Homo sapiens: one gene and its partner. The protein of the gene in region 2 interacts with the protein of the main gene of each other region in a pairwise test. Each region holds a gene or a part of one and is shown on either strand. Other genes may lie near its edges.

Region 1 (3,500 bases), on a different chromosome or scaffold from region 2:
AGAACTCAGTTACATTATTTGACTTTATGCACATAATCACAAAACAGGTATCTATCTATCACTCTTTAATGGTCAATTCCCAATACAAAAAAATAAAATTGAAATAACTACTTTTTGGCACTATTAATGTTTGTTTTTGTTTTAACCACAGAACAATAAAACCAATTCTAAGAGAAAAGGTCATTTAAACACTGAGTTTAAAAGAAACAAAGAAATCATTTTGAATAGACATTACCAGTTGTCAAAATAAATAATTACTTGGCTTCTCTCTACCGTTCCTGAAAAGGAGTCAGTATTACTGTATTCAGCCTACTTAATTTTTTTTTTTTTTTGAGACGGAGTCTCGCTCCGTCACCCAGGCTGGAGTGCAGTGGCGCAATCTCGCTCACTTCAAGCTCCGCCTCCTGGGTTCACGCCATTCTCCTGCCTCAGCCTCCCGAGTAGCTGGGACTACAGGCGCCCGGCTAATTTTTTTTTTTTTTTTTTTTGTATTTTTTAGTAGAGACGGGGTTTCACCGTGTTAGCCAGGATGGTCTCGATCTCCTGACCACGTGATCCACCCGCCTCAGCCTCCCAAAATGCTGGGATTACAGGCGTAAGCCACCGTGCCCGGCCCAGCCTACTTAATTTTTTAAAAGAGCAAAGAGGAAGTAGACTAATGAAGGTAAAACCAATGTTTTTATGACCTGACATACTAAGTTTGTCTCAACTACAAATGAAGAAGCCATAACAAAATTAGTTGCTCAATGAACAAGGAACTCAAAAATGGGGCAGGAGGTCCCTGTTACTCCTATTTATAAGGCCACTTACAAATACTCTAATTTGCCAGCTGTCACCAATACCTTTAGAGTATGATACAACTCAGTGTTTATTTTTGGCAATAATCCTGCAGGACAGAACTAATTTTTTTTTTTTTTAAGACAGTGTCTTACTCTGTCGCCCAGGCTGCAGTGCAATGGCACGAGCACAGCTCACTTGCAGCCTTGACCTCCTGGGCTCAATTGATCCACCTGCCTTAACCTCCCAAGTAGCTGGGACCACAGGCACGTACCACCACATCCAGCTAATTTTTAAATATTTTATGGAGACCAGGTCTTCCGATGTTGCCCAGGCTGGTCTCCAACTCCTGGGTTCAAGCCCACAAAAAAACCCTGCCTCCAAACCCTCAGTTTAGTTAATGAGGTCTTTAGTAGACAAACAATAGTTGAAGCCTCTTTCAAATTGGTCTGTCGCATAAAATACAAAACAGCTGAGACTGAATCTAGTTGCTCTTGTGCTAGTATACAAGTGACAAGGTTGAGATTCAGTGACAATGGCCTTCTAAAGTCACTACTTACTGATCTTTGAGATCGGTAAACTGTTTTTCAAGATTGGACATTTCATCCAAACATTCCATTCTTCTTCTTTCACAGTCTTCATCATCCATTTCTGTTAATAAAAAGGCAAATATAAAAGATAAACTTAATTTTCAAATTTATCTGAACATCTCAAATATATCTGAACGTAATTCAAATAGGAAGAAAAACTGTAATATGAAGAGAAGACCTATATTAAGCCTTAAAAGAAAATAAACAAGATTTATCAAAAATAATAATTTCTGCTGGGCGTAGTGGCTCATGCCTCTAATTCCAGCAGTTTGGAAGGCCAAGTCAGGAGGACAGATTGAGCCCAGGACTTCAAGATCAGCCTGGGCAACAGAGGAAGACCCCATCTCTACAAAATATAAAAATATTAGCTGGGCACGGTACCATGAGCCTGTAGTCTCACCTACCAGGAGGCTGAGGCAGGAGGATCGCCTGAGCCCAGGAGTTGGAGGCTGCAGTAAGCCATGATTGTGACACTGCACTCCACCCTGGGTGACAGAGTGACCTAGTCTAAAAAAAAAAAAAAAAAAAATCCACTATAGATTTAATCTAAAATACAGATGAGTATATAAAACTATACTGGTCTCTAGACCCTCTTACTTTTATTCATTTTTAAATCACTTTAAAGGACTGACTATAAGCTATAACTATAAAGTAATTAGCCCACATTTGGTTTGTTTTCCACCAACTCACCAGAATGTAGCACCAAAATGACTGTGTCCTTTAAAGGCTAACATTGCTCAAAAACATTTTTGGGATTCTTCTTTCAGAACTGCTCACATGGCTGATTTGCCTGTCACATAAAAAAAGAAAAGTGGCCGGGTGTGGTGGCTCATGCCTGTAATCCCAGCACTTTGGGAGGCTGAGGCTGGAGGATTGCTCGAGCTCAAGCGTTCAAGACCAGCCTGGGCAACATGGTGAAACCCCATCTCTAATAAAAATACAAAAATTAGCCAGACATAGTGGTGGATGCCTGTAGTCCCAACTGCTCGAGAGACCGAAGTGGGAGGATCGTTTGAACTTGATAGGCAGAGGTTGCAGTGAGCCAAGATTGCGCCAGCCTGGGCAACAGAGATCCTGTCTCAAAAATAAAAAGTGAAAGAAAGGCCAGGCATGGTGGCTCACTCCTGTAATCCCAGCACTTTGGGAGGCTGAGGCAGGCGGATCACCTGAGGTCAGGAGTTCGAGACCAGCCTGACCAACATGGAGAAAACCCATCTCTACTAAAAATACAAAATTAGCTGGGCGTGGTGGCACATGCCTGTAATCCCAGCTACCTGGGAGGTTGAGGCAGGAGAATCGCTTGAACCCAGGAGGTGGAGGTTGTGGTGAGCCAAGATCGTGCCATTGCACTCTAGCCTGGGCAACAAGAGCGAAACTCCATCTCAAAAAAAGGAAAAAAAAAGAAAAAGAAAAAGGAAAACTAATCTTATTATGTTTACCACAGGCTCTCCTGGTCTGCCATTCCTACGTTCCCTTATTCCGTCTACCCATATTACTATCAGTGAGAAAGAGGCAAATGAGGAGGAAAATACAAACTTTTTAAGGAAAGCAACTGTTAATTACCAGGTCTGTCCTATAGTCCACATTTTCTATGTTCATATCACATATATTCATTCATCAAAATAACTGAAGCACAAAATGATCTGCATCTTGATCTTCATCAAATAAAAGTCAAACTATGAGAAAGAGTTAAATCATGTTCAATTATTTTTATATAACATGGAAGGCTGACTCATTTTTTTCTCATTTTCTAAAACAGATTAAAAATACTTCTGGCTTTTGATTGCTTACTTCTTGGCTACTCAAAACTTGGTCCCTCAAGATGACTCACTATCCAAGTTCTCTGGATAGTAGAGGCTTTTCCGTAGCCTTAGAATTTGCTCAGCACCAACATTTGAGAAGAAAACACTGTGAAAGTTTAACATGAAAGACATATGGTAGAACAGAGATGCTTTAACAGAAGCAAACTGCAAAATTTATTTAAACAATTTCTTTGCACTTAAAATTTTGACTTGTAGTTCAAATTATTATCACATTCTTCAAAAATTAAGTTGTTCATTATTTTTTGGGATGGAATTTTTAAAAGTTAAAAATCACAAGAGTCAACATAAAAATTATAGGGGGAGAATTTTA
Region 2 (3,500 bases):
CTTATTCATCAGTACTTGAGACGTTCTTTTATCTCCCATTTTAGGTTTTTTCTCCCACCTCCAAATATTCAGCCTGTTTCTATCACTTCCTCCATGACAGTTGGCCGATATCTTTTCCCCACTCTATTCCCTCGTCTACCTAGCATACATGATTGAGGTAAGGTCACTGCCTGAGAACTTCCATTTCATTTCCTTGAGATATACCACCCCAAGATCTTTTGCCACTTAAACTCCCAGGGTCATTTCTTAGTCCTCAGCCAACTCCTCATTCCCCCACCGTGCCACATCATATTTGGGATTATATAGGGAGTTAGTCCTTTAACTTCTTTCTCTGCCAGCATCTACTGTTCTATGTTCCTCTTTCCCCATGCTTGGTAAGGGACAGAATTCAAGGCTCCCAGTCTCTCCCATTCAGAGGCAATTGTAAGACATACATATTCCCCACTTCAAACTCCAGCTTTAAGGAGGGAGGTCTTATTCTAATACAAGTTAGAATACAGATGTAAACCAATAAAGAAAGCTAATCTACAAACACTAAATGCAGAGGAAGCCAGAAATAGTCTGGAAATAGCAAAGGTATTGATGGTGTTTTCTCTGGCTTCATTCTAATATAAATGAGGTTAGCACTCATTCATCTGCTCTAGAGGGTGCCTAGGGGCTTCTAAGTGCTTAGCATCAGCCCACCTCCGACTGTCTGAGCTGTGTTTGCATGACTGCGGGTCATGCAGTGATGGGGTCTTTCCTTCTCAGAGGCTGCTGCCTTTTGCTTCGCTAAGTATATGACAACTGGTCATGCTTTCTATTTAAAGGCAACCTATACTTACATTTTGCAGCTGTCTTTGTACTGCTGGAATCTGCATCAGAATCACATTCAGTAAATAAGAAAATTGTTGTTCTTGGTACTTCCCAAGTATTCTCCTCTAGGCTTGGGGTCATCCAGTGCCAACCAAAGCATTCTCTGCTTTGTCCCTTCTTCTTTTGGCAGGGGAACAGGTGGTGGTGGTTGGTTACATAAATAAGTTCTTTACTGGTGATTTCTGAGATTTTGATGCACCCATCACCTGAACAGTTTACACTGTACCCAATTTGTAGTATTTTATCCTTCACCACCCCCAACCCTTTCCCCTGAGTCCCCCAACATCATTCTTATGCCTTTGAAGCCTAATAGCTTAGCTCCTACTTATGAGTGAGAACGTAAGTAGGAGCAATAACAAAATGATGTTTCGTTTTCCATTCCTGAGTTACTTCACTTAGAATAATGGTCTTTAATTCCATCCAGGTTGCTGCAAATGCCATTATTTTGTTTCTTTCTATGGCTGTGTAGTATTCATATATATATACATATATATATACGTATATATATTTATATATGTATATATATACGTATATATATATATATATATATATATACGTATATATATGCCACATTTTCTTTATCCACTCATTGATTGATAGGCATTTGGGCTGGTTCTATATTTTTGCAATTGCAAATTGTGCTGCTATAAACATGCATGTGCAAGTATCTTTTTCATATAATGACTTCTTTTCCTCTGGGTAAATACCTAGTAGTTAGATTGCTGGATCAAATGGTAGATCTACCTTGAGTTCTTTAAGGAATCTCCACATTGTTTTCCTTAGTGGTTATACTAGTTTACATTCCCACCAGCAGGGTAAAAGTGTTACCTTTTCACCACAACCATACCAACATCTATTATTTTTTTGATTATGGCCAGTCTTGCAGGAGTAAGGTGGTATTGCATTGTGGTTTTGATTTGCATTTCCCTGATCATTAGTGACGTTGAGCATTTTTTCATGTGTTTGTTGGCCATTTGTATATCTTCTTTTGAGAATTGTCATTCATGTCCTTAGCCCACTTTTTGATGGGATTGTTTGTTTTTTTCTTCCTGATTTGTTTGATCTCCTTATCAATCCTGGATATTAGTCCTTTGTCAGATGCATAGTTTGTGAAGATTTTCTCCCACTCTGTGGGTTATGTGTTTACTGATTATTTATTTTGCTGTGTAGAAGCTCTTTAGTTTAATTAGGTCCCATCTATGTATCCTTGTTTTTGTTGCATTTGCTTTTGGGTTCTTGGTCATGAAGTCTTTGCCTATGCCAATGTCTAGAAGGGTTTTTCCAACGTTATCTTCTAGAATCTTTATGGTTTCAGGTCTTAGATTTAAGTCTTTGATCCATCTTTAGTTGATTTTTGTATAAAGTGAGAGATAAGGATCCAGCTTCATTCTTCTCCAATTATTCTTGCCAATTATTCCAACACCATTTGTTGAACAGGGTGTTCTTTCCAGACTTTATGTTTTTGTTTGCTTTGTCAAAGATCAGTTGGCTGTAAGTATTTGGGTTTATTTCTGGGTTCTCTATTGTGTTCCATTGGTTTCTGTGCCTATTTTTATACCAGTACCATGCTGTTTTGGTGACTATAGCATTATAGTATAGGGTATTTGGTAATTTGATGCCTCCAGATTTGTTCTTTTTGCTTAGTCATGCTTTAGCTATGCAGGCTCTTTTTTTGGTTCCATATGAATTCTAAGAATTTTTTTCTAATTCAGTGAAGAATTATGGTGGTATTTTGATGGGAATTTCATTGAATTTGAAGATTGATTTTGGGAGTATGGTCATTTTCACAATATTGATTCTACCCATCCATGAGCATGGGATGTGTTTCCATTTGTTTGTGTCATCTGTGATTTTTTTCAGCTGCGTTTTGTAGTTTTCCTTGTAGAGGTTTTTCACATCCTTGGGTAGGTATATTCCTAAGTATTTCTTTTTCTTTTCTTTTTTTTTTTTTTGCACTATTGTAAAAGAGGTTGAGTCTTTATTTGATTTTCAGCTTGGTCACTGTTGGTGTATAGCAGTGCCACTGATTTTTGTACATTGATTTTGTATCCTGAAACTTTACTGAATTCATTTGTCAGTTCTAGGAGCTTTTTGGATGAATCTTTAGAGTTTTCTAGGTATATGATCATGTCATCAGTCAACAGAGATAGTTTGACTTCTTTTTTACTGATTTGGATGCCCTTTATTTCTTTCTCTTGTCTGATTGCTCTGGCTAGGACTTTCAGTACTATGTTGAATAGAAGTGCTGAGAGTGGGCATCCTTGTCTTCTTCCAGTTCTCAGGGAGAATGCTTTCCCCATTCAATATAATGTTGGCTGTGGGTTTGTCGTAGATGGCTTTTATTACCTTAAGGTATGTCCTTTCCATGCCAATTTTGCTGAGGGTTTTAATCATAAAAGGATGCTGGATTTTGTCACATAATTTTTCTGTGTCTATTGAGATGATCATGTGATTTTTGTTTTTAATTCTGTTTATGAGGTGTATTGCATTTATTGACTTGCATATGTTAAACCATCCCTGCATCCCTCATTTGAAACCCACTTGATCATGGTGGATTATCTTTGTGATATGCTGTTGGATTCAGTTAGCTAGTATTTTGTCCAGGGTTTTTGCATCTATGTTCATCAGGGATATTGGTCTGTAGT

Evidence for each region. Proteins that work in one complex are often made in the same cells at the same time.
Region 1: the proteins of DEUP1 (region 2) and BRMS1L interact in binary tests that used the Homo sapiens proteins (3 or more experiments, as listed by UniProt).

What each region holds. Positions count from the first base shown.
Region 1 is NC_000014.9:35,829,338-35,832,837, reverse strand, and holds part of BRMS1L (breast cancer metastasis-suppressor 1-like protein), read right to left. Parts: intron 3,044-3,500; exon of another isoform or gene 2,931-3,043; intron 2,158-2,930; exon of another isoform or gene 2,058-2,157; intron 1,429-2,057; coding exon 1,338-1,428; intron 1-1,337. UniProt on the Homo sapiens protein: Involved in the histone deacetylase (HDAC1)-dependent transcriptional repression activity. When overexpressed in lung cancer cell line that lacks p53/TP53 expression, inhibits cell growth.
Region 2 is NC_000011.10:93,372,242-93,375,741, forward strand, and holds part of DEUP1 (deuterosome assembly protein 1), read left to right. Parts: intron 1-3,500. UniProt on the Homo sapiens protein: Key structural component of the deuterosome, a structure that promotes de novo centriole amplification in multiciliated cells.